Homo sapiens: one gene and its partners. The protein of the gene in region 3 binds, or shares a complex with, the protein of the main gene of each other region. Links are inferred from orthologs where the notes say so. Each region holds a gene or a part of one and is shown on either strand. Other genes may lie near its edges. The genes, in order: SHANK1, ITCH, ARHGEF7 and PAK1.

Region 1 (7,779 bases), on a different chromosome or scaffold from region 3:
GCCCTGGCCCCGGGTCCCCCGGGGGCCTCGACCTGGCCCGTCTGGGGAGCTGTCGGACTCTGAGCCCCCCTCGGGACACTCGCTGGCACTGTGGCGTTCCTCGTCCTCGCTTGTCGCGGGGCTGTGGGTCATTGTGGGGCCACGGGGCGACGGGGGACGGCAGCATCACAGGCGGCTGCAGGGGCCAAGGGCGGCCATCAGACTAGGAGCCCGGGACCCCTCAGAGGCCGCAGGCGCTATTCGGTGGTCAAGCGGTCAAGGGCAGCCTACCCCCACTGCCCAAGATAGGCAGGAAGGAGGCTGGACACACCCTCGGCCTGCACGGCCTCCCCTGCCGCCTCCTCCCACGCTGGCACGCACACACCCCTGTCCCTGACATGCTTCTGGCATGTGTCTCCTTCCCTGCCCTTGGCCCCGCTTGCAGCCCGCCCCCTGCGCCCCACTTTGCTGGTGACCCAGCGTGGCCGTGTCCCAGAAACCGCAGAATCACCGCGGGAGCTACTGGCCCACTTTGCCAGGCCACAGAAAATGCAGCTAAAATTAGCTAAGGACAGACAGGTGGACAAACTGACAGGCATCCTGCCCTCCTGGCCCCAGCCTGGCCCCTCATCCCAGGGCCGGGGGGTGGGGTTGGGGAGAAGCTGAGGCTGACACTGAGATGTAGTAAGGGGGAGAGGGAGGTGTGGTGAGCCTGGAGCGGGTGGAGCTGGTGACTTCACTCAAGTGTGGCTGACAACGCGTGGCATGCCGAATAGTGCTGGGGAATCTGCCGTCCCAGGGGAGCAAGGGGCACTGAGATGGGGGTGTCATGGGCAGAGCATTTGGCCTAGGGTGTCCCCAAGGGAACCACAAGAGGTGGCTTTTGGAGACTGGGGCATCTTGAGAGGGTGTGCGGGTAGGTGGGGAGGTCGGCCTGGGGAGTGCTGTCCAGGTGACAGTGGTGTGGTGGCCCGGGTAGATGTGGGTGGCTGCAGATGACCTGTAGCTCTTTTCTAGGACTGCAGGGTGGGTGGGCTGGCTTGCTGGGTACTAGGGGCTCCACTCTGAGGACTGGGGGTGTTAGGAGGGAGGCTAAGAAGTGAGAGGAGGGTCTGGGGAACTGAGTGGGGGATCATCTCTAGATCCTTGCTGTTCTCCCTTGAGGTGGCCTTATGAGGGTGGAGCCCCTTCCAAATGGGGTCCGCCTCCCTTCTGTTCTCCCCCAACTCCCACCCCAGCACCGGAAACCAGAATGTCTGGTCTGGTCCCTCCCCCCAACACCAGGCCCGGTTCCTGCACCGTTGCCATGGAGATGGGAAGCAGTGGAGGGTACTGCTGACTTTGGGGGAGTGGGGATGGGCTGGGGGGTTGGGAAAGGGAAGACTAAATGTGTGTGGTGGGAGGAGAGTTCCAGGAGGTGTGGGCGAGCGAGCCTCTAACCCAGGGCCGGCGGACCCCTCCCCCACGCGCGGCAGCGCTGCGAAGCCCCCTCCCCCTCCAGGTACCCAGCCACGCCGCCCCACCTCGTCCCTGCGGAGACCCCGGCTGCCTCCTCCCTGCCCCGCCGCACAGCCCACCTCGCGATCTGGGGCCCGCAGACACTCCCCCTCGGCTGACCCTGGCTGACCCCCAGCCTCAACCCCGCTCGGAGGGGGTGGCCGGTGGGATGAAAGAAAAGCTGGCTAGGGCCCCCCGCGCGTACGGCTGCCCCAGCCCCCCCGGGCCGGCTCCGGCCCCTCCCCCTCAGGGCTCGCGGGAGGGAGCGGGCACGCTCCGCCGGGGCGGCATGAATCAAACGCTCCGCGGCTAAGAATAGCTGGCACGCAGCTGGTACCGAGACGGGCTGAGGAATCGGCGAGGGGGGTGGTGGAGGACGCGAGAGAGGGGGTGCCCTGGGAGGCTGTGGGGGGACAGGGGGCGGCTGGCGTGGCCGAGAGCGGGGCCGGGGAGAATGAATGGAGGCGGAGGGAGGCGGGGAGGGGCGGGGAGAGAGAGCCGGAGCCGAGGCTGGGAAACTGGTGGGGGAGAACCCGGCCGGGGAGAGGGGCGGGGGGCACCGGGGAGCAGGAGTCGGGGGCGGGAGCCGAGGGGGCGCGCCGGCCGGCGGTGTAGGGACTGGAGACCTGGTGGGGACGCAGGGAGCTTGGACAGGGGTGGAAAGGGACTGGAGGAGCCTGGAAGGAGAAGCGGGAGCTGGAGGGGTCGAAAGGGGCGGAGGAGGCCCGGGCCTAGACCCTCGCTGGAGGGGAGTGGGGACCAGGGTGACCTGGCGGAGGGGCCCAGGTACGCCAGGGAGGGCGAGGCGGGGGAGTGGCCGGGCTGGGCGGGGAGGCGGGTACCAGGACCGAGCCCTTGGCCCCGGAGAGCCGGGAGGCGGGTTCGGGATAGGGGCTCTGCTGGCCGGGGGTGGGGGGCGCGCCCTCCCATCAAGGATGCGATCTGGGACGGGGCACCGGGGACCCGGGCGTAACCCAATTTGGTGTCGCCCAGGGCAACGCTCCCCACCTCACCCGTACCCCCAGCCGCACACCCAGGCCAGGAGCCCGGCGCCGGGCCAAGGACATCCGGGGCGCCCTCGCCCCCTCCCGCGGCCCCGGCCCCGCAGCTGCCCCAAACCCCCAGGTTCTCGACCCCCTTACCTGCCTGGCGGGGCTGCTGAGTCCCGGTCGGCGGCGCCCGCGGCCCCTCCCCCCTCCCCCCACCCCCCACCCCCCCGGAGACGGGGACCCTCAGGCCATGCCCCACCGCCCCGGAGGGCGAGCGGGCCCGGGGAGGGGGCGGGCGGGGACCGGGGGGGAGGGCGGGAGGGCCGAGGACCTCACCCCCCCCGCGGGCCGGGCCTGGCCATCCGCAGAGCGCCCCCCCTTCCGCCGCGGCCGCCGCGCCCCTCCTCGCCCGCCCCCGGCTCGGTCCGGCCGGCTCCGGGCGCCGCGTCTCCGCCTGCTCTTCCTCCTCCTCTTCCTCGGGCCGCCGCCGCCGCCGCCCGCTCCGCGCCTCCTCTGCCACCCTTCTCGCTCTCTCGCTCTCGCTGTCTCTCCCTCACCCTGTCTCTCTCCCTCCCTCTCTCCCTCCCTCCCCTCCCTCCGCCCTCTCCCCTCCCTCCGGGAGCCGGCGGAGGAGACATCGCCCCTCCCCGCGCCCCCAAACCTCGCCCATCCCCCACCACCGCCGGCTCCGCCCCCTACCCTTGCCCTCCCCCACCACTCCTCCCCACCTCCGAGTCCCCAAATCCTGACTCCGCCCCTGCTTGCTCCCATACCCCGAGGAAGGGGTCCTGCCCCCATAAGGTGCCCCCCCACACACACCTCAGGACCACCCCCTCCCAGAGAGCTCCCCGCCGCCCTACACAGAGTGGGGCACAATAAATATTTGTTGCCAGACTCTACACCCCCAAATTTAAGTGTGAAGGCTATAGATTCCCACCCTGTCCCCCCAAACACACACACACCCTTTCCATTTAAGCACTGGGTCAGGGCACACGTGGACATACCTGGGCCAGGCCACATTTCCCCAAGGCACAGGTGCATAGTCACCAGCTGTAACGGCACCTGCAGAGTCCCCACATACACACACTCTCCAGCGCATGCATGCCCAGACACAATGCACCTGGGGTACACAGCTACAAACACACCCAGCTACATGCAGTTGTCACACCCCTGTGCCCGGGCACACACGCAGCACATGCACACATTTGCCCACCACACACGCACGTGCGCGCGCACACACGCACACAGGCGTTCACCCCGGTATGCATGCCCAGATCTCTCAACACCAAAACGGAGTTACAGCACTGTAGAGACGTGTGCACGCCTTCCCATCACACCCACCCACCGTGCTGTCCATTGCACTGGCTCGCACTCACCCGTTTACATGCCCAACACCGTGCCATCCTTCCCCTCCAGGATAGTTACTGCTGACATTCCTGGAGCACTTTCTGTGTGCCAGGCTCAGGGACTTTCGCCATCCCCATTTTCCAGAGGGGGAAACCAAGGAACAGAGAGGCTAAGTAACTTGCCCAAGGTCATCCAGCTGTAAGGAGGTGGTAACAAGGATCAGGAACAGGTAGGCTGGCTCCAAAGTCCTCACTTGACAACTATGGTGCACTACTGGGCATATCCCCTCATAGTTGCATATCCTTATTCATCACACACAGACACACCCAACCGTCTCCTCAGAGTTTGCACATGTCTGTGTAGGCACGCATATGCAGCCAGCTGCAGGCAGACAGCTCATTCATGCCTGGGACGCACCCACAGGGACAGAGCAGATCCCACAGGGCAGCAGTGAGTGGTGAGTGTCCCCTTAGCCCAGGCTTCCTCATTCTCCCAGCTCCAACAGCACCTCCAGGGCCTGCAGGGGGCAGTTCTAGGCAGCTTCTGGGTTCCCCTCCAGCTGCAGGCTCTCCGGGGTACCCGAGTATGAGCTGGAGGAGGTGCCTGCTCAGCCTGGGGAGGCCTCTATCTTGATGCGTACCCACTAGCCCAGGTGGTGAGCAGCTGGGCCCGGGGAAAGCACAGCTGCCCATGTTGGCTCCAGCAGCCAGAGAGGCTGTGCACCCCTGCACACTTTACAAGGCCTTTCCCCACATACGCATTATTTCTTGAGGTCTGTAGCTCCTGGTGAGGGGCCCCAGGTTCCCGATGGGCACCTGAGAGGCCCAGGCTCTGAGGCAGGGAGCAGTCTGCCCAAGGTCACAGTGCCCTCGATGTACCAGGATTTCTTGGAAAACGGAAGGCTGGAGGCACTGATTTCCAAGGCCCCTCCTGGGGCTCCCGGCAGCCGAGGGCAGATGCCCTGCTCTTGGAGCCAGAAACCTTGGCTAGCTGCCGCCACACTGGTGACCTCCAGCAGGCTATGCTGTTTCAGAGCCTCGGTCTCCTCCTTTGAAGAGCAGGCCCAGTGATCCTTGGCTGGTGTGCCCCATGCTTGTTGGCACCACCAGCCAGGCCTGGGCGGGAAAAGCCCTGCATGACTCATGGGCCTGACATAGAGGGGCATGGCATGGCATTGTTCTTCCTTGCCTCCAAGCCTCTCTCCCACTGCCCTCACCACCTCTACCTACCCTGCCACCACCACCCTGGGAACTTGGGTGCCAGCAAACCAAAGAGGTGAAGCTTCCAGGCCTTTGACCCCACCAGGAACGGCTACCCTCTCGCCCACTCAACAGGTTGATTGAACACCTACTATGTGCTAGGTAGGCCTTGTGCTAGGAGATGCATCAGTGCATAAAAATCCCTGCTTTCATTGGCAGGGAACAGACATAAACAAACAAGATCATGCCAGTCTTGATTATACCAAAAAGATGAAATGGGGCATTTTAATAAAGTAACTTGCGGAATAGATAAGGTGGTTGGGGAAGACCTCCTGGAGCTGAGACCTCGATGATGAGAAGGAGCTGGGGAAAGAGGCTTCTAGAAGGAGGAAAGGGCTAGTGCAAATGCTCTGAGGTTGTAATCAGCTTAGTATTTGGGGATGAGCCAAGAGGCCAGGGAAGGTGGAGGCTGGGGGTGGGTGAAGGGAATGGGGGTGATGAGGCTGCAGAGGTGCAAAGGGTTCTTCCTTCCCAGCCCCCAGCATGGTAGGCTGCGCTGAGGACTGAGGCCCGGGCTTGGCTTCCCTCCTGCTTATGATGGGAAGGTGGGGGAGCAGGGGAGTGGGGAGTGATGTGATCTGATTTATGGTTTGGAAGGATTGCTTTGGCTGCGGCAAGCAGCCGGGATTGGAGGGGCTCAGGAGGAAGGAGGGGGAGGGCGAGACTGCAGTGGTCCAGGCTGAAATGAGGTGGCTTGCTGAATGCTCAGAGCTCCTTGAGCACACAACCTAGCGTCTGTCGATTTCACCTCCTGGAGAAACCTTCCCTGACTGCTCCGCCAGACTCCTCACCCTCTCCCATCTCCAGCCCCCTCATCCCCGGAGCTATCTGGCTGCTGGTCTGCAAGCAGCTGGAGTCCCCAGCATCACCCAGCCCACAGCCTGGCCTGCAGGAGGCTTCTAGTAAAGTGGCCAATTAATCCCCGAGCCCCGTCTTCCAGGGTCATGCACACAGTCACACGCGTGCTCTTCACATGTGTCACCCTGCCCCCACACACACTCACTTGGATCTCCAGACAAGGGCTTGGAGGGTAGGATGGGCAATCTAGGGGGCAGGAGGGGCCCTGGAGTCTCCTCCATTGAGTGTGCAGGCGATGGTGGCCACAGGGTAATAACAACCTCAGCGAGACCCTGAGGTCTGCCCCTCCTTAGGAATGGCCAGGCAGGGAAGAAGGGAGCAGTGCTCGGTCCCAGCATCCCACCACTGCCGAGATGGTTCTGAGCGGGTTCCTGGGCTGAGGCCGGGGCCTGTGTTTTCCAAGATTCCTTGGAGAGCCAGCTCCATCCTCTTCCTGATTATCTGATCTTTGGGCTACAGCAGAAGGAAAGAGCAGGGCGGAAGCGAGCTCTGGAAAGTGGAAAGAGGAGGGTGTGCGAGGAGACCCAAGGCGGGATCTAGGCTTTGGAACGTTGGAGGTTTCCGGCCACAGAGGCAGGGCCTCCGGGGAGCCAAGAGGGGCGGGGAGAGACACACACAGAGAAGCAGAGGAGACCAACGGACCGGACAGAGACGAGGAGAGGAACAGGAAGAGAGAAGCTGGGAGAATCGGGAACCTGGGGGCTAGTGACCTGCACACAGGGCAGGGGCACTCGGCAGTTCCCAGAGGCCACCCCTCCCACCCCAGACATCCAGACATCTGGAACTTTGGGTGCCAAGAGTCCAGCTTAATGCAGGCAGCCTGGCTTTTGGGGGCTTTGGTGGTCCCCCAGCTCTTGGGCTTTGGCCATGGGGCTCGGGGAGCAGAGAGGGAGTGGGAGGGAGGCTGGGGAGGTGCCCAGGAGGAGGAGCGGGAGAGGGAGGCCCTGATGCTGAAGGTGAGCTCTGGAGTGTCAGGGAGCTATGGGTGGTGAACTGTGGGTCTGGGAGGGGGTATTGCAAGGTTAGGGAAATGGACAATGAGGAGCGATTGGGATAGTCTCAGAGGAGTGGGAGGGTGATGGGCTCAGAGACAGGACTCAGGCAGCAGAGAATGAGTTATGAGTTGGAAAGGGGTGAATGGGGCATCTTGGTGGCAGGCTGGGGCTCACCACCCCTCCCCTGCCCCAGCATCTGCAGGAAGCCCTAGGACTGCCTGCTGGGAGGGGGGATGAGAATCCTGCCGGAACTGTTGAGGGAAAAGAGGACTGGGAGATGGAGGAGGACCAGGGGGAGGAAGAGGAGGAGGAAGCAACGCCAACCCCATCCTCCGGCCCCAGCCCCTCTCCCACCCCTGAGGACATCGTCACTTACATCCGTGAGTAACCAGAAGCCCTCACCCCCAAACTCCTAGGCCGCCGCGGTCACTTTCGCAAAAATGAAGGGTCGGTTCACTGCCAAGTGGCCTTTCAGTTGTCCATTGCCCAGCCCAGAGCCCCCACACCCCTAGGAGCCCCAGGTCCACGGCCATGCCTCCTAAAGGCCTGGGCCACTCGACCCTACCTTCCAGGAGTCCGGGGTGCCCCCCCCACCGCCACCCCGCCCTCAGGAGCCCTAGATCCCAGTTCTCCAGGTCCTCAGGCCCCCCGCTGCATCTCCAGGCTCCCCCTCCAGCATGATCCCTGTCTGTCCGCAGTGGGCCGCCTGGCCGGCCTGGACGCAGGCCTGCACCAGCTGCACGTCCGTCTGCACGCGTTGGACACCCGCGTGGTCGAGCTGACCCAGGGGCTGCGGCAGCTGCGGAACGCGGCAGGCGACACCCGCGATGCCGTGCAAGCCCTGCAGGAGGCGCA
Region 2 (7,448 bases), on a different chromosome or scaffold from region 3:
GGGTGAGACCCAGTCTCAACAACAAAAAATCACTTTTCATATACTTGCTTCCTTTAACCTTTCTGACCTTGCGTTTCAAAATGCTCTCCTTCCCCATTCCACTCCACACTCCCTGAACCCTTTTTGTTCCATAATCCTCTGAATTTACACACAGCATTAAGGCATTCACTCAGCCTACCCTGTCCTTCTCTTTCCCCGCCCTTTTCACACTCCTACTCTTCATGTAAGACCCAATGTGGGTTCAGGGGCAAATCTTGCCTCTTCTAACCAATCCTCCACCCAGCCACACACACAGAATTGGCCACTTCCTCTTTCGTCTCAAAGCTTTTTGACCTTTCCTTGGTAAGTCTACAGTACCATTTGCCCTCAGTGGTTCCCAAGACCATCAGAATTACCTAAGGCATGTGTTAAAAATAAATTGGTTGAAGCCAACCCAGACCTACTAAATCCATCTCAGAAGGTAAGACCCTGGAATTTCTAAGCTCTCCTAATTATTCTAATGGTCAAATTTGGGGACTACTGGTTTGTCTGCCTCTCCCAATAAGTGAAAAGATGTATTTTTTAGGGCCAGGAGTGGCGGCTCATGCCTGTAAACCCAGCACTTTGGGAGGCCAAGGCAGGTGGATCACGAGGTCAGGAGTTCGAGAGCAGCCTAGCCAATATGGTGAAAACCCATCTCTACTAAAAAATACAAAAAAATTACCGGGAGTGGTGGCACGCGCCTGTAGTCCCAGCTACTACGGAGGCTGAGGCAGAAGAATTGCTGGAACCCGGGAGGCGGAGGTTACAGTAAGCCGAGATCACACCACTGTACTCCAGCCTGGGTGACAAAGTTAGATTCCGTCTCAAACAAACGAAAAAGATGTATTTTTTTCTAAAGAATGTAGAAATGTTTGATTCTAGAATACACTGAAGAAGTAGTCTGTACTCATTTTTTTAATTTCATATGATATCCTTGGTGACTTGACCTGTATGCTGAATGTAATGGAATTCCTTTTGGACTCACAAAACTTAAATTCACAGTTCAAAGAAGCAGTAGAATTTCCACCTTCATTTCTAAATTTTTTTTTTTATTTTTTGAGACAGGGTCTCACTCTGTCACCCAGGCTGGAATGCAGTGGCAACGGTAACAGCTCACCGCAGCCTCGACCCCCCGGAATCAGGTGATTCCCCCACCTCAGCCTCCTGAGTATCTGGGACCACAGGCGCCTGCCACCACACCCGGCAAATCTTTGTATTTTTTGTAGAGACGGGGTTTCACGATGTTGCCCAGGCTGATCTCCAATTCCTGGGCTCACGTAATCCGCCCACCTCGGCCTCCCAAATTGCTGGGATTACAGGCGTGAGCCACCACACCCATCCCATTGCTTTTTTTTTTTTTTTTTTTTTGAGGCGGAGTCTCGCTCTGTCGCCCAGGCTGGAGTGCAGCAGCGAGATCTCGGCTCACTGCAGCCTCCACCTCCCGGGTTCAAGCCATTCTCCTGCCTCAGCCTCCCTAGTAGCTGGGACTACAGGCGCGCGCCACCACGCCCAGGATTTTTTTTTTTTTTTTTTTGTATTTTTAGTAGAGACGGGGTTTCACCATGTTGGTCAGGATGGTCTCGAACTCCTGACCTCATGATCTGCCCGCCTCGGCCTCCCAAAGTGCTAGGATTACAGGCGTGAGCCACACACAGCACCCGGCCCATTTCTTAATTTTAAAAATAAATCGTAGCTTAAATAAACCTGTAAATACACATAGCAAGCTCTCAGCAGATCTGCCATGAGAACTTCACCTCAACTGATAAACCATTCCTTAGCCGATTTTGAGAATGGAAATACACTGCCTTTACATACTTCCTGAAGATCGAATTCTATCAGGAAAAGATGCAGGAGAACCCACCTAAGTGGGTGGCTGGCTCCAGGGTCTTACTAATTTTCAAGGCAAAAATCCCACAATTCCCCATCCCCCACTCCAAACCAAGTATACTGTAGCTGTGGAAGAATGGCAGAAAATGTAATAAGATTAGGATACGAATACAACCAAGAAAACAAGGTTGCGTTGTTATTGGGGATAATGAATTCCTGGCCCTTTACAAGTTCACCTGGTTACATGTCCAACTAACTTTAGGCCCAGCGTCTACTTCGGGCGCACAAATTCTGCGATTCTCTTTTCTGTCGCGGACGGGAACTGTCTTGGAAAACTTGAGTTCTCCACTTAAAAGTCATGTCATCATGCTTCGACCCTTAGAATACGTTCAACGGCTACTTTTTTCTTTTCTCTGCTAAAGAAAAGGGCACTCTCCGGAGGAAGGGCAGTGACAGCTCCACGTCTGCAAAAGTCGGCGCCGCCACGACGGTGGCGGACGTCGGGGAGGGCGCCGGAGCCGGGACCACCACGCCGGGGGGACAATGGAAGGAGGAGGCGAGTGGGAGAGAGAAGGGGAGGCAGCCGCTGTGCTGGGCCCTTCTAGCGACTGGGGGCTCGGAAAAGTCTCGAGAAGGCCAGCTGGGTGGCGGGGGACCCGGCCGCCGCCCCTCACAGGGCCACGTCGCCCGCGCCGGCCCCGCCGCCGGGCCCCGCGCGTAGGCCGAACCGCTGGAGAGTGGCCCCAGGCGGGGCTGAGGGGCGAGGGGCCGGACGGTACCCACGCCCGTCGTGGCCCAGCCCTTTCACAACTTGGAGCCCGCGAGGCGAAGGCCTCCGGAAGCCTGTGCCAGACACTGATCCCTCCGAACGTCCAGACAGCCCACCCCCACCGCCCGGCCCGGGCCAGTAGCCCGAGCTCCCCGCGCCCCCGACAGACACCGGCTCTGGAAGAAGGAGCAGCCGCGGCTCTGGGGTCCCGAACCGCGCGTCCCACTCCTCTACCCTTGTTCTCCCCGAACATTCTCATCCGGACTCCCTCCCTCTCCCGAGAACTGCCCCGAGTTCGCCCACGGGGGTTTACCGGGACTCGGGGCGGCGGCGACTCCTCAGTCCCTAGACTAAGATGGCAGCCGGTCCCGAGCCCCGACCACAGCTACTAGAGCGAGTTAGCAGCTAAAGCGCAGGCGCCTGAGCGCGGAAGTGGTCTAGACTACAAGCCCCAGCAGGCCTTGCGCGCCAGCCGTCCGGCCCGCCCCTGGCTTGAAGAGCTGGCTGCGGTGGTAAATCAGTTAAATCCCAGTTTTCCTCAGCTCCAGGTGAGATGGGCGCGAGCGGCTCCCAGCACCTCCAGGCTTTTTTTTTTTTTTAACACCCCGCCCACCAGAGCCTATAAGGACTGTGATTCTCAAACTATGGTGTGCATCAGAATCACCTAGAGAGCTTATTAAAACTTACACTGCTGACCCCCACCCCCAGAGTTTCTGATCAGAAGATCTGGCATAGGAGGATAGGGTCTGATAATTTGCATGTCCAACAAGCTGTCTAGTGATACTGCTAGTGAGTGAAATCATAATTTGAGAACCAATGGGCTATATAGCTTAGTTTATAACTTAGTTGTTCTTTTTTCTTTTTCTTTTCCTTTTCTTTTTTTTTCTTCTTTTTGAGATAAGGTCTCACCCTTCACCCAGGCTGGAGTGCAGTGGTGCAGTCATAGCTCACTACAGCCTCACACTCCTGGGCTCAAGCGAGCCTCCCACCTGGGCTTCCTGAGTAGCTGGGACAGCAGTTGAGCACCACCACACCCGACTAATTTTGTTCTATTCTTTGTAGAGATGGGGATGGGGTGGAGTGCGGATGGGATGGGGCGGGAATAGGGCCACGGTGTCGCCATGTTGCCCAGGCTGGTCTCCAGCTCCTGGGCTCAAGCGATACTCCCTCCTCGGGCCTCCCAATCGCTGAGATTACAGATGTGAGCCACTGCACCTGGCCTGGCTTAGCCTTTAACAATGTACATTAAAGGGCGTGGTTAAAAAGAAAATAAAAGAAAAAAAATGTACACTTGAGAGTTACACTGACCGGATTCAAATCCTCCCTTTTCTACCTTTTAACTGGGTGCCCTTAGGGATGATGACAACAGCTTAGTGGAGCCAACGTGGCCTGTCCGGTATTCTAAGAGCTGATACCAAGCTCCCTTTATTCTCACAACAAACCTATTACAGAAATACCATTATTATCCCCATTTTACAAATATATAAACTAAGTCACATACTTGATAAGAACCCAGGCAGTCTGGCGTGAAAGTCCGTTGTCTTAACCTTCTTCATGGATTGCTTGTGAGAAATAATAGGCTATGCAGGCAGAGACTCAGAGGTATGACTAAGTGCTCAATACTTAGTGACCTTTGCTATTACTGTTTAGCCTGTTTCCTCCTAATGAAAATAGTATTTTGCCATCTGGAAAGTCACATTTTTCAAAGTGACTTTTTTTTTTTTTTTTTTTTTGAGACAGAGTCTTGCTCTGTCACCCAACCTGGAGTGCAGCGGTGCAATCATAGCTCACTGCAGCCAACCTCCTGGGCTCAAGTGATCCTCTCACCTCAGCTTCCTGAGTAGCTGGGACTCCAGGCTCAAGCCACCACACTATCCTAATTGTTTTTATTTTTGTAGAGACGTGGACTCCCTGTGTTGCCCAGGCTGTTCTCAGACTCCTAGGCTTGGCTAGGGTCAGTGGCTTACACCTGTAATCCCAGGAGTTAGGGAGGCCAAGGCAGGCAAATCACTTGAGGTCAGGAGTTTGAGACCAGTCTGGCCAACATGGTGAAACCCCGTCTCTTTTTTTTTTTTTTTTTTTTTTTGAGACAGAGTATTGCTCTGTCGCCCAGGCTGGAGTGCAGTGGCGCAATCTTGGCTCACTGCAACCTCCGCTCGCCTCCTGGGTTCAAGTGATTCTCCTGTCTCAGCCTCCTAAGTAGCTGGGACTACAAGCGCATGCCATCACGCCTGGCTAATTTTTGTATTTTTAGTAGAGTTGGGTGAGCCACCACGCCTAGCCTTGTGAAACCCCTTCCCTACTAAAAACACAAAAATTAGCCAGGTGTGGTGGCGGGTGCCTGTAATCCCAGCTACTTGGGAGGCTGAAGCACGATAATTGATTGAACCCAGGAGGGGGAGGTTGCAGTGACCCAAGATCACGCCATTGCACTCCAGCCTGGGCGACTCAGCGAGACTCTGTCTCAAAAAACAAACAACAAAAGAAACATAAAGGCTGGGCGCAGTAGCTCACTCCTATAATCCCAGCACTTCGGGAGGCTGAGGCGGGTGGATCACCTGAGGTCAGGAGTTTGAGACCAGCCTGGCCAACATGGTGAAATCTTGTCTCTACTAAAAATGCAAAAATTTGTTGGGCATGGTTTGGGAGGCCGAGGCGGATGGATCAACTGAGGTCAGGAGTTCAAGACCAGCCTGGCTAACATGGTGAAACCCCATCTCTACTAAAAATGCAAAAATTAGACCGGGCACGGTGGCTCACGCCTATAATCCCAGCACTTTGGGAGGCCAAGGCGGGCGGATCACGAGATCAGGAGTTCAAGACCAGCCTGGCTATCATGGTGAAACCCTATCTCTACTAAAAATACAAAAATTAGCCGGGCGTGGTGGCGGGTGCCTGTAATCCCAGCTAGTCAGGAGGCTGAGGCAGAGAATTGCTTGGACCTGGGAGGCGGAGGTTGCAGTGAGCCAAGATCGTGCTACTGCACTCCATCCTGGGCCACAGAGCGAGAATCTGTCTCAAAAAAAAAAATGCAAAAATTAGTTGGGCATGGCACACCCCTGTAATCTCAGCTACTCGGGAGGCTGGGGTGGGAGAATTGCTTGAACTCAGGAGACGGAGACTGCAGTGAGCCAAGATCACGCCACTGCACTCCATCCTGAGTGACAGAGTGAAACCCCATCTAAAAAAAATAAAAAATCAAACTCCTAGGTTCAAGCCTTCAAGCCTCAAGCAAAGTACTTTCAAAACCACTTCATGTTTCCTGCAACATGCCTTAGGAAAGATTGCTAAAATACAGATTCCTGCGCCCCATCCTCATTCAGTTTCTCTAGTGCAGTGGTTTTCAAACCTCAGTACTTATCAGAATTGCCTGCAAAGTTAGTTAAACTGTAGGTTGCTGAGGCCACTCCTAGAGTTTCTGATTCAGTAGGTCTGGGGCAGGGCCTGAGAATTTGCTTTTTTTTTTTTTGGAGACTGAGTCTCACTCTGTCGCCCAGGCTTGAGTGCAGTGGCCCAACCTCCGCTCACTGCAACCTCTGCCTCCCGGGTTCAAGCGATTCTCCCGCCTCAGCCTCCCGAGCAGCTGGGATTACAGGTGCATGCCACCACGACTGACTAATTTTTGTATTTTTGTAGAGATGGGGTTTCACCATATTGGCCAGGCTGGTCTTGAACTCTTGAGCTTGTGATCTGCCCGCCTTAGCCTCCCAAAGTGCTGGGATTATAGGCGTGAGCCACCGCACCCGGCCAGTACAAGGTATTTTTATGACCATTATACAGAGAAGAAAACTGAGTGTGACAGAAATTAAATGGCTTGTTGAAGATCACTCAGCCAGGAACCAGGGATCTAACCCTAAGTCCTGTAGCTCCAGATTCTGTATTCACCTACAATTTTAAAAACTATGTAAGGTTAGGCAAAACTAGTCTATGGTGTTAGAAGTCAGGATACTGGTTACTCTTTGAGGGGAGGGTGTACCTGGAAGAAGGCACAAAGACACCTCTCAGGATAGGTAATAATGTTCTGTGCCCTGATCTGGGTGGTGTTACTGTTTCAGGAAAAGGGTCCTGATTCAGACCCCAAGAGAGGGTTCTTGGATCTCGTGCAGGAAAGAATTTGGGGCAAGTCCATACAATAAAGTGAAAACAAGTTATTTATTTATTATTCTTTTTCAGACAGAGTTTTGCTCTTGTCACCCTGGCTGGAGTGCAGTGGGGCAATCTCAGCTCACTGTAACCTCCGCCTCCTGGGTTCAAGTGATTCTCCTGCCTCATCCTCCTGAGTAACTGGGATTACAGGCGCACACCACCACACCCAGCTAATTTTTGTATTTTTAGCAGAGGTGGAGTTTCACCATGTTGGCTAGGCTGATCTTGAACTCCTGACCTCAGGTGATCCACCTGCCTCGGCCTCCCAAAGTGCTGGGATTACAGGCATGAGCCACGGCACCCAGCCGATAATGAGTTTATTAAGAAAGTAAAGGGGCCGGGCGTGGTGGCTAACGCTTGTAATCCCAGCACTTTGGGAGGCTGAGGGGGGTGGATCACGAGGTCAGGAGTTCAAGACCAGCCTGGCCAACATAGTGAAACCCCACCTCTACTAAAAATACAAAAATTAGCTGGGCGTGGTGACGTGCGCCTATAATACCAGCTACTCCAGAGGCTGAGGCAGGAGAATTGCTTGAACCAGGACCCAGGAGGCAAGGTGGAGGCTGCAGTGAGCCGACATCGTACCACTGCACTCCAGCCTGGGCAACAGAGCAAGACTCCATCTCAAAAAAAAAGAAAAAGAAAAAAGAAAGTAAAGGAGGCCGAGCGTGGTGGCTCACACCTG
Region 3 (7,923 bases):
CAGAAGAATCTGACACGCCGTGAACGTCCTCTCTGCTCCCTCCACCCTCTTCCTAACTCTGAAACAGAACAAATGAGCGTAATGGAAGAAACACATTAGGGCATGGTTTCTTAATAAAAGACATATGGGAAGCCCGAGGCACCCAGCCACGTTTTAGTTCTGCCCTCATCCCCAGCCTCATGGCCCATGCCAGGTTGTGAGCCTGCAGAGGCGAAGGCTGCAGGCCACTTGCCCTCCGCTCACTGGCTGTCAGGGCACTCCTGCAGCAGAGGTCAAGCGAAGCCCCTGTCATGTCCACATGAACATTCAGTTAAGTTTCCAAATGCTTCTTTTTAAGGAAAAAACATCCTCAGACTCACATTCCCACATTTAAGTAAAAGTTATTCAGCATGTGTGCTTTGTGGCATAGATTATCTGGTAAGCATGAAAACACCAAAAACCCAGATAACTGGCTGGGCGTGGTGGCTCACGCCTGTAATCCCAGCACTTTGGGAGGCCTAGATGGGACAATCCCTTGAGGCCCGGAGTTCAAGACCAGCCTGGCCAACATAGCAAGAACCCATCTCGAAGGAAGGAAGGAAGGAGAAAGAAAGAGAGAGAGAGACAGAGAGAGAGAGAGAAAGAAAGAAAGAGAAAAAGAAAAGAAAGAAAGAAACCCAGATAACTCTGCCTAGCAAATGGAAAAAGCTCACAAAACTTCTGAAACACAGGGATCTCAGAGGCAGAAAACGGCTAATATTTTACTCCAAAAACCTACCTTTGAACTCCAGAGAACCAGTAACTGTGTCTACAATACGCTGCCTTCACATTAAACTTTCATTGTGACAGAGTCAGTTTAACACAAACCAACTGGAGCTCAGGGGGAATCAAAAACAGCTCTGACCTAAGAAATTTCCAGATGACTGTAGTTTTAGAATATGTTGAGTTGTTTCAACTTGGCTTCTGCAAGCTCAACATTTTATTCGTTCTTCTCTTTGTTGTTTTAGAGATGAAATGAACGCTACGGTTTTCTAGGAAAATCTTTCTATAATTTAAAAGAAAATGATTATTGAAGTCGGCCAATCAATATTAATACAGTTAATATGCCAAACAACATATTCTTTGATGGCGACATGTTTTTATCAATACAGCATATGACACTTCTTAAAGCTTTGCTCTTAGGGATGGAACAGAATTTTATTTAAGCCTATTTTGGTGAACTTTGCATGCATTTCAACACTTTTCAACATCTGTCTTTCATTACCAGAGGTACCAGTATCCAAACAGCAAAGTATTTTGAATGCCTTGAAAGTCAGCTCCTGCTCCTCAGTCCTCCTGTCTTAAATCATAATTTCACTGTGACATCAGGTTCATTTTTAAGGAACATTTTTATTTCATGGACAGGCAGGCAGCCATTCACTCTAATATGCAGATTCTGTTTTCATAAAGATGTTCCAAGTAAGAAAAATAGCTAAAAGTGGAATGCAAGCCAAATTCATATTAAATAAAATGTTTTCTGACCTCATTTAAAATGTAGCAAGAGAATATGTACATGTGAATGAAAAAAATTAAACATTTTACTTTTTCAAGTCACTTACGTGGCATTTTATTTACAAGTTGTTGTCATCCTGTATGGGGGCCAATACACCCCACTTAAAAACTGAAATCCTTCTTCCTAATTATGGTACACTTCAATTTCTATATTTAACACCTTTTAAATAACTGTTGATCTTAACGCTATATATTGGCCACCCCCACCCCCACCCCACCCCCCGAAGAAACACCCTGGGAATAAGATTTTAGTATTTTGAGCTACAGGGAGACATCGTTTTTAGAAACTCTCCTGCCTCCTCGGCCCTGCTGGCCGGCTTGTGGGCGATGAAAACAAACTTTAATCACTTCCAGAGATTCGGGTCAGGGTTCACACGCTCCAGCCTGGGAACCACCAGCCGGAAGGGAGAAGCAGTGCCTGCAGGACTAAAGGTTCTGTTCAGAACGAGGGAGGGACCTGAGAACGAAATCTAGAATTTTAACAAGCCTTGAAGAGTGCCAGGACTTAGACCCTGTGTCTGCCGTCCTCTCGGCTCGGATAGGTGGGGAATTTTCTCGAGGGGAAAGTAGTAGATCGTTTCACAGCGCAGCCCTCAGCTACAGATGCGTGCCTCTTTAAAAATACAGAGCAACCGGTCAATTAACCTGGGAGGCGAAACTCACGCAACGCCACCGGCAAGAACTGTCCACACAAAGCCAGCGGAGTGAGCCGCACCGCGTCGGAACGCGGTTTCCGATGCGGCTGCTGCCAGGGAGCGGGGCCGGCCCCCCACGCGGAGGGGCAACTTAGCGTTCGGGCGGCGCAGAAGCCCCGTCTCCTCGCTGCGGTGCACTCTCCTTCCCGGGGACCCCCGCCGCCCGCGCCGCCCCTCCCCCCGACCCCGCTCCCCGGCCCCCTCCCCCTGCCCCGCACACAATGGCGCCCCCCGAGCTCCCGCCACGGTCCTGGCGCCGGCCGCGCCGCCGCTCCGCGCACAAAGGAGGGCGCACGGGTTTCCCGAGCGCGGCCGGCCTCAGGTGCTCCGCGCGCATCCCGGGCCGCAGCGGGCCGGACCGGGGGGCGCGGGCGGGGGCGCGGGCCGGGACTTACTTTCTCGATGGTCCCGGGGAGCAGGCGCTCCAGCAGCCTGCAGAGGACCACCCCATCCTTCAGCGACGCCTGCAGAAAGCCCTCCGGGTCCGAGATGGTTTTTTTGGGCGACTCCAGCACCCCCAGAGTGATGAGCCACGTAACGGTTTGCTCGGCGGAATTCATCGCTGCGGCCCGGGAGGCAGGCGGGGAGGGGCGCGCGCCTTCACCTCGGAGCGGCGGCCCGGCCCGCGGCCCCCGCCGCCGCCGCCGCCGCCTCGCCCATCGAGCGGCCGGCGCCGGCGATTGGCTCGGCGCGGCCCAGCAGGTCCGGCCCGGCCCGCTTCTCCGTGCGCCCCGGCCCGCTGTCAGGCGCCTTCTCAGGAGCGGCTCGGGAACCTGCGGGCGCCCGCCGCCGCCCCCCGGCCTCGGCCGCCGTCGCCCAATGACATCACCGCCAGGAGAAGAAAGACGCGGCCGTCCGCCCGGCCCGCGCCCGGCCCGCGCCGCCCCGCGCCCTGCGCAGCCTCCGCTCCAGGCCGTGCGCGGGGCGGCGGCGGCGGCTGGGAGCGGGCGGGGAAGGGAAAGGGGAAGGGGAGCGGGGAGCGGATGGGGAGGGAGCCGGGGGTGGGGGCGGGCGCGCACCTGCGCTTACCTGCCCCGGGCCCGCCGTGCGCCCCGCGCCCCTGGCCGGGGCACTCGGAAGCCTTTGTTTATGTTTTGAATTCGTGAGCGTTGAAATGATGAAGTACTTCCCAGAATGCTCTTTTTATTTTTGCCGGTTTTATTTCAAGGTGGCGGGGACAGGCTGAAAACGAGACGTTTGTTTCGCTTTGCTACCTTGCAAGCCGGTCATGACGGAACAGAAATGATGGTTCCATCTGAAGCCATATGGGTCTGAATCGGGAGGAACCGACTCTCCGGAGCGCGGCGCCGACCTCACCGGCAGGGCAGGGGCCTGCGCGACTCTGCTCTAGACGGACGGTGACGCTTCAGACCCTGCCGGGGGAAGGTCAAGGAAACGGCGTGGCCTGAAGTGGGGCTGTGCAGAGGGCCGGGCCGGGCCGGGCCGGGCGCCTGGCTGCGTCTCGGGGACGCCGAAGATCTGGGCTGTGAAAGCAGCAGGCCGAACCTGGAGAGCCCAGACGGCAAGTGTCGCGTCATGCGCGAGCTTCCTCGAACAACTGATGACACGCACACATTGACATGCGAGGAAGAAATGGAGCCTCTTCTTAAAAGGACACGAGTCTCCACTCACTCCATCCACTGTCCCTGGGCGCTCCCCCAGTTTGCTCGCTATGACCCGCGGGCAGTTTAACAAGCAAAGCACTTAGTCTATGCCAGGCACATACATTAATCCATTCAATGACAAAGGCTAGAAAGCATATAAAGCTTCCAAAAATAATCAGAGGCTTAAGTCGTCTCCCCCTGCCTTCTGCCGGTGGATTTCTCTTGCAATCACTAATTGCTTTTATTTCTAGCCTTGAGTTAAGTGGTTAAAATTTTCTTTGCAAATACAAAAAATATTCAAATGGCAGTATGAATTCTGGATTACGAGGACAATGTGCTCAGTGATAACAGCGACTGGTTAGGAACCGTCACAAAGTGCTGTCTACTGCCTCGCCTCCCATCATGGTCCCCTTTTACTGATCAGATGCCGAACAAGTGGCAGAGATAAGACCCAAAGCTCGGCTCCTACCAGGAAAGGCATACCTAACCCGTTTCCTACTGCTGCCCTATAAGCTTTCTAGGAAACAGGAGGGCAATTAACAGCTACATCAAGGCTTGTACCCAGTGTCTTCGTGGAAGGAAAGATGTCAACCCGGGGCGTGGTTGTACACCGAGACTTCTGTTCACTTTCCTTACTGCTGAATTAGAGAAATAATTTAATGCAGTCCTTACCATTTCGAATCCTACTAAATTCGGTTTGATACTTATAAGGTGGTAGACTTGAGTAAGATTCAAATAGACTCAATTAAATGGTCCTATAGAAAGCCAATTCTAGGGAGTGACCTTACGAGACCAGTGAAGCAGAGAGCCAATTCTTGTCGGACTGGAGACCCACAGTCCAGGTATTACAACTCGTCTTTTCTTGGTGGGGAGAAGCCCAGACTTTTAAACACTTTATGGTTACTAGTTGCGTTCTTTTATGTTGGGTATTTATTAATTTCAGAAAAAGAGTTTACTTGGAAGGGATTTTAGAAAGTAACATTGCTCAAAGCTAGATATTTTTAGGTGCTTAATTGAGTTGTTTTAGTATCCAAAGTGGGCATTTTGGTTAAACTTTCCTTAGCACTTTTCCAGGTTCCTATTACAGAGGCCACGCGGAGTGCAATCTGGTGCCCATCACTTTTGGGCTATTGGGTTAGCTCGAGTTAAGACTATTGTCTAAGGGGAAGTTTAGCCCTTTCTGTGGCTCTCCTCTGGACTTGCCTCAAGAGGTGGAGAATGGCTTTCCACGCAAGCCTGTGGCTTCGCTTCCTTCGTTTCTAATGAGAGAATGTCAGCCTCACACCCAGCTTGGCTGCTTGCTAGTGCCTGGTAGGCACCTTCCACATCACTGTTAGGAGTTCACGCACAAACCCTACTGCAAACCAGTTACCACCCAAAGCTCAGCTGAACCCTGCCAACTCAGCGTGTGTGGGGTCACTATAAAAATGCCAAAATCTAAAAAATAAGGCAAAATTCACTCCAAACTTAAGCTGGACAATCAGATGACCATTTACCTAGAGTGGGTAGTAATCACTCCCTGTAGAACTACCCTTATCCAACTGGACCCTGTCTAGATTGGAGAATGCACTACGAAGTGGCTCTATGCAGCTCATTGTATCTGCTGTGTGTTATTGTATGAAACAAGGTCCTGTTCATTTGGGATAAATATGATCAAATGCTAAAATTAAAAGATGCAAGGCAGGAAACATTAATTTATCAACACATATGGCTGGAGGAGTATGCAGGATCAGAAAGCATTTGACCAGTATAGTATATTATGAAACATGATGCCAACAAGACGCTTCTCCTGGTTGGGTTTCCCCCAGAAGCAGACCCTGAGCCCACAAATTGGGTGCAAGTGGCTTGCTAGGGAGTGACCCCAGGAAGGACAGTGAGGAAGGGGAGTGAAGCAGGTAAGGGAGTCAAGGGGTGAAAATGAGCACTAGGGCTCTGTTCCCCTGGGGGGCCCTTGAGAAACAAGTGGAACAGGTCTCAGCACCTTCTGGCCAGAGGGCAGGAAGGCTGACTTTACCCATGGACTCTGGATTGAGGGCTCCCCCACCAGTGACCTCTGATTCAGCAGAGCCCAACGTATCTTTTGGGGGACAATTCAACTGCAGGCATTAGCGTTATTTCATAAGCCAGCGCTTCCACCGCACCTGCTCCACATGCCAGTTCCGCACAGGTGAGCGGCACAGTCACTGTGATGGTGCAGAATGGGCGTGGGAGATTGCCACTCATGGCGCATCAACAATGGCATCTGTGACAGTGAGTTTTATGTGTCAACTTGACGAGGCTACAGGGTGCCCAGACATTTGGTTAAATATTATTCTGGGTGTGTCTGCGAAAGGGGGTTTTGGGATGTAATGAACATTTGAGTAAAGTAGATGGCCCTCCCCAATGTGGTGAGCTTTATCTAATCAGTTGAAGACCTGAATAGAAAAAAAGACTGACCTTCCCCAAGTAAGGGAGGATTTTCTCTGGTTCTTCAGCCTGTGGGCCCCCTGCAGAGCAGATGTGCCCACCTCCATAGTCACATGAGCTGCTTCCCTGTAATAAGTCTCTCTCCCCTCCCTCTGTCTCCCTTTCTCCCAATTGATCAGTTGGTCAATGGAAAGAGATTCTATTGGTCTGTTTCTCTGGAGAACGCTGACTGACACAGTGTCCTAAGGCCGTGCCATCTGGCTGGGGAGAGATGTGTCTTGGGATTCTCCCCCTGGGCATCTGCTTTCCAAGGTCCCCTCTGATACCATCTGCCTTGGTTTGTCCCCTCCTGTCCCCGAAGGCAGACCCTGAGCCAGGGCTTCAGTGCAGGCTGCCTATTTGGGAAGTGACCATGAAAAGCACAAAGGAGAAAATGGGACGATGGGACAGGGAAGGGGAGAAGCTAAACACAAGGCTGCCTTGTTGGCAGGTTATTGCTACGGGAACCTGGGCTGCAGTCCTACTGGGGCCTATGCATTTCTGGGAGAGGCCGTAACAAAGTCTCACAAGCTGGGCGGCTCAAATAAAAAGAAATATATTCTCTCCCATTTCTGAAGTTTGGAAGTCTGAAGTGAAGGTGTGGGCAGGATTGGTTCTTTCTGGGGCCCAGAGGGAGAATCTGCTGCAGGTTTCTCTCCCAGCTTCTGTGGGTGGCCAGCCATCCAAGGGAACCTCCTTGTACTGGGTATAAATCGCCCTAATCTCTGCCTCTGTGTTCACATGGACTTTTCTCCCTCTCTGTGTCAGTGTCTGAATTTCTCTCTTCTTATAAGCATGCTAGTCACTGGGTGAAGACCCACTCTGATCTGGGATGGCCTCATCTTGGCTTGATTGTATCTGTGAAGAACCTATTTCTAAATAAGGTTGCATTTACAGGTACTCGGAGTTAGGATTTCAACATATCTTTTGGTGGACAATTTTACTCCCAATAGTGCCCTTTGAGAAATCAGGACCCTGCCCCAGAAATATTACATGAGAGGAAGGGGAAGTGGAACTTACTATCATCACTCAGAAGGAACGTGGTGTCCTGGGATCTCTGTGATGCAGGATCGATTGGTGCATTCTGGTGTTACTATCCAGATCCATCCATTATGATTCCACCCATCATCATCTATTTGCTTCAGCAACTATTCATAATTCCTACTAGATTCAGTGTTTCATTCAGAATTGCCATATCTTGATAAGTCCTTCAGTTATATTTCAGCTAGAATTCTGCAAGAGGTACTGTTCTTTATCAGCTATATGTGTACTCTGAAACGTAGTTCCTACAGGAAAGGCAAGATAAATGCTCACTCATTTTCCATTGTTTACCACTTTTCAGCATCACGAGTTGGTGCTCCAGCATCCTGCAGAGGAGACCAGTGATTTTTCTGAATACCATTATGAATTCACAGACTTTGAAAAACACATTTGATACATTTCAATTTCTTATTTCCCTCTTCTTAATTTCTCTTTTTGGAATTCTTGGGAGACCTTTCTCCATGAGTCTCTTCCACTTCTGAATATCTGAGCAGAGGTAATGACAGCTTTTGTTGCAGACTATATTTTCAAAAGTCTTTTAAAGCAAACAGCCTTGGAAAGTAGATATACTGTTCCCCTTTTGGGAAGAGGACAAATTTGCTTGCCAA
Region 4 (7,015 bases), on a different chromosome or scaffold from region 3:
GAGATACCATCTCACACCAGTTAGAATGGCGATCATTAAAAAGTCAGGAAACAACACGTGCTGGAGAGGATGTGGAGAAATACGAACACTTTTACACTGTTGGTGGGAGTGTAAACTAGTTCAACCATTGTGGAAGTCAGTGTGGCAATTCCTCAGGGATCTAGAACTAGAAATACCATTTGACCCAGCCATCCCATTACTGGGTATATACCCAAAGGATTATAAATCATGCTGCTGTAAAGACACATGCACACGTATGTTTATAGTGGCACTATTCACAACAGCAAAGACTTGGAACCAACCTAAATGTCCAACAACGATAGACTGGATTAAGAAAATGTGGCACATATACACCATGGAATACTATGCAGCCATAAAAAATGATGAGTTCATGTCCTTTGTAGGGACATGGATGAAACTGGAAACCATCATTCTCAGCAAACTATTGCAAGGACAAAAAACCAAACACTGCATGTTCTCACTCATAGGTAGGAAATGAACAATGAGAACACATGGACACAGGAAGGGGAACATCACACACCCGGGACTGTTGTGGGGTCAGGGGAGGGTGGAGGGATAGCATTAAGAGATATACCTAATGCTAAATGACGAGTTAATGGGTACAGCACACCAACATGGTACATGTATACATATGTAACAAACCTGCACGTTGTGCACATGTACCCTAAAACTTAAAAGTATAATAATAATAAAATGTAAAAAAAAAAGAATTAAAAAAAAAGAAAGAAAAATAAAACATAAATAAAATAAAATAAACTTATGTTCCTTTGCTAAAAATGTATCCTTTGAGCTAATCCCAGCAAAATATAAGTTGTGTAAGATTTGGGTGTCAGAGACCCGTTTCTCAACAAGACTCAAACAAACTCTGCCAGACTAATTCAAACAGAACAAAGGAAGTGCTAATGAAAGATACAAGCAGGCTGGTCATGGTGGCCCATGCCTGTAGTCCCAGCACTTTGGGAAAGCGAAGTGCGCAGATCGCTTGAACCCAGGAATTTGAGACCATGCACGGCCAACATAGCAAAACCCCGTCTCTACAAAAAAGTTTTTAAAAAACTAGCCAGGTATGGTGGCGTGCACCTGTAGTCTGAGCTACCTGGGAGGCTGAGGTGGGAAGATCACTTGAGTGAACCCAGGAGAGGAAGACTGCAGTGAGACAAAATCACGCCATTGCACACTCCTGCCTGGGTGACAGAGTGAGACCCTGTGGGGCGTGAGAGGAAGGGGGAGAGGGAAGAGGGGGGGGAAAGGGAAGGGAAGGGAAAGGAAGGGAAGGGAAGGGAAGGGAAGGGAAGGGAAAGGAAGGGAAGGAAAGGGAAAGGAAGAAGAAAGGAAAGGAAGGAAGGAAGCAAGCAAAAAAGCTACAAGCAAAGCTCAATAGGTGCTCAGAAAATAGATTGTAAACTGAGCCTAGGAGAACGTGTAGAGTTTTAACAGGCTGAGAAAGGCTAAGAAAATAAATGAGCAAAGGCCCAGGGATAAAAGGGCAGTAGGAACAGAGTGAGTGTAGGAAGTGGTAGAAGAGAAGCCTAGTTCTATAATATCCAGTACCTTACAAACATGAAGTAAAAAAGGCCTGGTTTAGTGATTCCCTGAATTAGGTGCTTCCCTGCATAAGGACAGTTACCTGTAGCAGCTCTTTAGCTGAACCTCTCTTCTCCACATCCATCTCGAGACAGCGGTTCAGAAAGTCCCGGAAGATAGCTGACAGCTTCTCTGGGTTCTGAAGTTCTGGGGTCCCATTGGTGGCAATGAGGTACAAGGCCTGGCAATAAAAATGGTGAATCACCTTGAGCTCCAAATGAGGCTCTCTCTTGTTCCCCATATACAAGTTCTAGAAATATGGTCAGCTGCTTTATGCTCTAGGATGCAAAGTAGCAGCTGTGTATATATACTGGAAAGAGTATGACCTAAGGATCAGGTTGAACATTTAAAGGCCATGGGACTATGTACAACTTCCCTGTCTGTAAAGTAGGGATGATGATAATGCCCATCTCACATGTCTGTAAAAATAAAATAAGATAGTGTATTTGAAAGTACTTTGTAAACTTATGAAATATGTTACAGACCTAAGGGTTTATTCTTCTTCTTCTTTTTTTTTTTTTTTTTTTTTGAGATGGAGTCTTGCTCTGTCGCCCAGGCTGGAGTGCAGTGGCACGATCTTGGCTCACTGCAACCTCCACCTCCCAGGTTCAAGCAATTCTCCTGACTCAGCCTCCCAAGTAGCTGGGATTACAGGCACCAGCCACTACACCCGACTGCTTTTCGTATTTTCAGTAGAGACGGGGTTTTACCATGTTGGCCTGGCTGGTCTCAAACTCCTAGACTCAAGTGATCCTCCTGCCTCAACCTCCCAAAGTGCTGGGATTACAGGCGTGAGTCACTGTGCCTGGCTTTATTATTATTCTTGCTTACACATCTGAAGGGTTTATTATCCATTTAGCCTGTTGAGTTAAACATCTGCCCAGCTGCTGGCAGAAATTATTCCTGGTGCCTTCACCTCAGTCATCCAAGAACTGATCTCTTCTAGCAGGAAAGGAATATTAAATGTAAGTGAAAACTGTTGCCACCCTAGTCCCCTAAATGAAGCGTCTCCTGGGAAAGGTAAAGAAAAACAGTAAGACTAAATCTTTACAAGCACTCAGCACTTAATTCAAAGAGTACTTACATAAGCACTGTCTAATTTAATGGCCACAATTAACTCTGGGTAATAGGGCAAGACTTATCATCTTCACTTCACAGATAGGGTCCGGAAACATAAAAAGATATGTCTAGGGCCGGGCGTGGTGGCTCACTCCTGTAATCCCAGCACTTTGGGAGGCTGAGGTGGGTGGATCACCTGAGGTCAGGAGTTCGAGACCATCGAGAACAGCCTGACCAATATGGCGAAATGTGGTCTCTACTAAAAATACAAAACTTAGCTGGGCATGGTGGCAGGTGCCTGTAATCCCAGCTACTCAGGAGGCTGAGGCAGGAGAATCGCTTGAACCTGGGAGGTGGAGGTTGCGGTGAGCTGAGATCACACCATTGCACTCCAGCCTAGGTGACAGAGTGAGACTCCATCTCAAAAAAAAAAATAAAATAAAAATAAAAAAATAAAAAAATATGCCTATGTCTAGGATCATTCTGTCTTATTTCCAACATATCCCAGCAATTATCATCTTCAAATATCTGCAAGGCCGTTCTAAGGGAGGGAAGAGTATGTTGTATGTGGAGTCAGAGGCAAAGCTGGGATCAAAGGATAGAAACTACAGAAGGTAGTTTCAGTTTGGTGCACTGAAGCAATTTCCAATAATCAGAGATATTCAAGGATGACATGAGCATGTAGATGACCACCTACCAGCAACAGTGCACAGGGAATTCCTGCACTGGATGGGAGGTGGGAATAAATGAGAAAATAAAAGCAATCAGAATAAATTTCACATTTGCCCACACCAAGATTACCAACCTATTTGCACCTGTGTTGAGATGCTCTGTTACAAGGGATAAATTGTCCATGCTAATCTAATGTCCTTTACTTCAGTACTTGATCGAACCCCTCTCATCGACTTAAGGATATCACTTCTATGGTTGTCACTTCCTTCTTGTACATGACCATTTTCCTCCTCTCCACTAAATCATTCCCATTAGCACACAGACATCATCTTTTAGAAAAACCCTCCCTTGACTCCATTTTAAGATAGTGCTCCATTTTTGTTACCCTTCCCAGCAAAATTCCTTTAAGAGAAAAAAAAACCTGTTTATACATGCCATCTCAATGTCCTCTTCTTCCACTTTCATGAATTTAATTAGACTTTCATCCCCATCTCTCTACTGATAACTGATTATTAAGGTCATTAAGAACCTCTACATTGGCAAATCCAATGTTCATTTCTCAGTCTCATCTTAACCTATCAATCACATTTGACACATAATCTACCCTCCTCCTCCTTCGGGAAGCACACTGTTCTCTTCATCTCCAGGACACTTCACCTCCAAGACACTTCTCTGTTCTCTCACACTAGAAAGGCCACTCCTTGGTCTACTTTGCTAGTTCTTCCAACCTGTAAACAGTGGAATAACCTAGAGCTCAGTACTCAAATCTCTTTTCTTTAACTGTACTCATTCCCTAGGTGAGTGATCTCATCTACCTACTATATATACCAACTATATATTATCTACTAATAAATTTATGTTTATAGTCCTGACTTCTCACCCTTGAACTCCAGACTCTTAAGCCAAACTCTACTCCAGCTCCACTTAAATGTCCAATTAACACTTCAAATCAGCACATTCAAAACCAACTCTTTATTACCCAACTTAAGTATGCTCTTCACCATTTCAACAGATGGCAACTGAATTTTTTCAGCAATTCAGACCAGAAATCTTGTAGTCATTGCTGATTCCTCTTTCTCTAATATTCAGTTCATCTTGTCAGCTAGTCCTTTAATTTCCTGAATCTGACCACTTCTCACTTCCACTCCTACCAAGACACCACCACTCTGAACTATTACAACAGTCTCTCGCAGTCTATTTTCCATAAAAGCGGCCAAAATGATCTGTTTAAAACATAAATCAGATCACATTACTCCTCAGCTCAAAACCCTCTAATGACTTCCCAACTCTGCAGAATAAAATAACTTATAAGAGAGAACTTCCCTCTCTACTCTAAAATAGCACACCTGTTCCTCCATTACTCTGTTAACTCCCTTACTTTGCTTTTTCTCACAGCATTTACCATCTGTTACTACATATTAATTTATTTTATTTTCATTAGAATAGTTTCTTGCACTTGACAGGGACTCAAATAATTGTTGAATAAATGAATGAGTGACTTCTAATATTCCTTTTCTTTGGCCATTTATACTTTAAGTTCAACAGTGACTAGTTGTATCCAGAAAAGGGATCTCCAGGTTGAAAACCACAGAGAACACCCTGGATTCTTATTTCCTGGGACTAGAGACAACAGCCCAAATAACTTGAAATAGAACTGGTAACACTCACTCTCAGAGGGTTTTCATTGAGGTATGGAGGCTCCCCTTCAATCATTTCGATGGCCATGATGCCCAGGGACCAGATGTCAACCTTGGGCCCATAGGCCTTTCGTGTCACAACCTCTGGTGCCATCCAGTATGGGGTTCCTACCATGGTGCTCCGTTTGCTCTGCTCTGGGGTTATCTGTGCACAGAATCCAAAGTCAGCTAGAAAAGAAAAATAAGAGAAAGAACATACATTTAGGATATACACTCACTTCAGTAAGTGTTGACTGTGTACCTACACATAGGTGACAAGATCCGCCTGGCTTCCAGCTCTGCTATCCTTTGTCTCTCCAAAGTCACTTGACTACCACCTTCATGTCTAGCTCCTAGCCTATTTCCTATTGAACCCTGAAGAGAAATAGAAGGAATATAAGAAACACCATCTCTGGCCTCCTACTTCTCCTCAAACCAGGGGACTTAGTGTTAAAGTCCAAGCTGCCCATTTTGGTCTTGATTGCTCATCCCAATTCTGCTTTGTTCTTGAAAAACCATTCCCATAATCCCAAATCTGGCGACTAGGTCCTTGTCTTATTCCTTGGGCACGAGTCCTTGATTTAAACCCCAATCACCTATGACTAGGCATGGCCCTGTTTTTATGCCCCAGACCCAGGGCTGCTAGCAGTCCTTCCATAAACTGCCCATCCACCCATGACACAGCCTGTTTGTCTGGTCTACTGGTCTTTACACCTTTGAACAAAATGCTCTACCTGCCATGGTTTTTACATTATATTGCAATTATAAATTTATTTAAATTAGGAAGCCTTTGAGAGTATGGATTATGTCCTCTTACTTGTCCTCATATCCCTAGAAGGACCAGCATGTACTGGACATTCAATAAAAGTTTGCTGAATAACTGAATGAAAGAAATTATACAAAACTCTTTTTTCTAATTATCTATTACACGTTTTCCATACTAGATTGAGAAGGTAGGGAAAATTTACTCTCAGTGCCCATCACAGGACCTAGCACAGAGTAACCATTCAGCAAAGTTTTTTGTGGTTGTTGTTAAATGTATAAATGAATGAAAAAATAATGAAATGATATCCTATGATTAATACAGAAAATATAAAACAGCCCTCATATCCCATGAAATCATAAAGACCCTTTGGTGAGTGTCGTAGTTACTATTATATGATGACCATCTCACAGGAGACAGGGCCCCACAGGCAGAGAAGTATTATCATTCCTAAGGCTCCTACTTACTTAGCTTGACAGAGCCATCCATTCCCAACAGAATATTGTCACTCTTGATGTCTCTGTGAATGACCTGGTTCGAATGCAAGAACTCCAGAGCCTGCAGACACTATTGAAGTGGTGTGGGCAGGGGGAGAAAGAAAGGACATACATATAATACAGAAGACTTAATAGAAAATCCACTAATTCAACCTCTTCACTTTAAAATAAAGGAAGTAAGGCCCCAGTGAGTAAAAGGACTTGCCCCAAATCAATCGCAGAGCCAGATCTAGAAACAAGTCTTCCATCTCCTAGCTAAACATTCTTTTAACACTCCATGCTGCCTTTCACCTTAAAACAGTTTTTTTAAGTAAAGGAGTTCCTCCAATGTAATTTTTTTTCTAATTAGATCCTTGGTAAAGGACCTAAGGCCCAAGAGAAATTACTGAAGAAAAATGGAAAGGATCTTATAATGACAGACCAGAGGAAAACAACAAATAAGGGTCATATTTGAGGAAGCAGACATATGGAAGTGATACTAGAAGCAGTAAGTTAGCAGGATAATCTTATTTTGGTGAGGAGATATTTTGTACTATTTTGGATATGCTGAATTTGATATCTGAAGACAAATGTCTGGTAGGCAACTTAATTTATGATAAATTATGGTAAATATTTACAAGTCATTTGGGAAGAGATGATTTTTGTTTAAGTTATAAAAATGGTTGAACCCGGCAAAGGGTAAAGGAGAAAGAGAAGAATCTTGGAAAACACCTATACTTAGCAGGCAGAATGAGTAATAAAGA

Evidence for each region.
Region 1: the proteins of ARHGEF7 (region 3) and SHANK1 are in contact, whole or in part, in a crystal structure (PDB 3L4F), measured with the Rattus norvegicus proteins. The link is inferred for Homo sapiens from one-to-one orthologs. Residues at the interface, in XP_063131056.1 of Rattus norvegicus: Asp735, Ala737, Trp738, Asp739, Glu740, Thr741, Asn742, Leu743; in NP_113939.2 of Rattus norvegicus: Gly673, Phe674, Gly675, Phe676, Val677, Leu678, Arg679, Gly680, Ala681, Lys682, Phe696, Glu703, His735, Arg736, Val739, Ile742.
Region 2: the proteins of ARHGEF7 (region 3) and ITCH are in contact, whole or in part, in a crystal structure (PDB 5SXP), measured with the Homo sapiens proteins. Residues at the interface, in NP_001106983.1 of Homo sapiens: Phe193, Phe195, Thr198, Asp201, Glu202, Arg215, Glu217, Glu218, Gly219, Gly220, Trp221, Glu223, Thr230, Trp232, Pro234, Asn236, Tyr237; in NP_001244066.1 of Homo sapiens: Arg252, Pro253, Pro254, Arg255, Pro256, Arg258, Pro259, Pro260, Pro261, Pro262, Thr263, Pro264, Arg266.
Region 4: the proteins of ARHGEF7 (region 3) and PAK1 are in contact, whole or in part, in an NMR structure (PDB 1ZSG), measured with the Homo sapiens proteins. Residues at the interface, in NP_001106983.1 of Homo sapiens: Lys192, Phe193, Phe195, Thr198, Asp201, Glu202, Glu217, Gly220, Trp221, Trp232, Pro234, Ser235, Asn236, Tyr237; in NP_001363202.1 of Homo sapiens: Thr185, Pro186, Pro188, Val189, Ile190, Ala191, Pro192, Arg193, Lys198, Arg203, Ser204.

The regions. Positions count from the first base shown.
Region 1 is NC_000019.10:50,716,788-50,724,566, forward strand, and holds the start of SHANK1 (SH3 and multiple ankyrin repeat domains protein 1), read right to left. Parts: upstream 3,016-7,779; 5' UTR 2,619-3,015; intron 176-2,618; 5' UTR 133-175; coding exon 1-132. Other genes in the region: CLEC11A (C-type lectin domain family 11 member A precursor), read left to right, coding at 6,739-6,885, 7,118-7,304, 7,623-7,779. UniProt on the Homo sapiens protein: Seems to be an adapter protein in the postsynaptic density (PSD) of excitatory synapses that interconnects receptors of the postsynaptic membrane including NMDA-type and metabotropic glutamate receptors via complexes with GKAP/PSD-95 and Homer, respectively, and the actin-based cytoskeleton.
Region 2 is NC_000020.11:34,358,832-34,366,279, reverse strand, and holds the start of ITCH (E3 ubiquitin-protein ligase Itchy homolog), read right to left. Parts: upstream 3,008-7,448; 5' UTR 2,931-3,007; intron 1-2,930. UniProt on the Homo sapiens protein: Acts as an Acts as an E3 ubiquitin-protein ligase which accepts ubiquitin from an E2 ubiquitin-conjugating enzyme in the form of a thioester and then directly transfers the ubiquitin to targeted substrates.
Region 3 is NC_000013.11:111,110,389-111,118,311, reverse strand, and holds the start of ARHGEF7 (rho guanine nucleotide exchange factor 7), read right to left. Parts: upstream 3,003-7,923; 5' UTR 2,786-3,002; coding exon 2,621-2,785; intron 1-2,620. UniProt on the Homo sapiens protein: Acts as a RAC1 guanine nucleotide exchange factor (GEF) and can induce membrane ruffling. Functions in cell migration, attachment and cell spreading. Promotes targeting of RAC1 to focal adhesions. May function as a positive regulator of apoptosis.
Region 4 is NC_000011.10:77,331,082-77,338,096, forward strand, and holds part of PAK1 (serine/threonine-protein kinase PAK 1), read right to left. Parts: intron 6,343-7,015; coding exon 6,243-6,342; intron 5,202-6,242; coding exon 5,005-5,201; intron 1,787-5,004; coding exon 1,649-1,786; intron 1-1,648. UniProt on the Homo sapiens protein: Protein kinase involved in intracellular signaling pathways downstream of integrins and receptor-type kinases that plays an important role in cytoskeleton dynamics, in cell adhesion, migration, proliferation, apoptosis, mitosis, and in vesicle-mediated transport processes.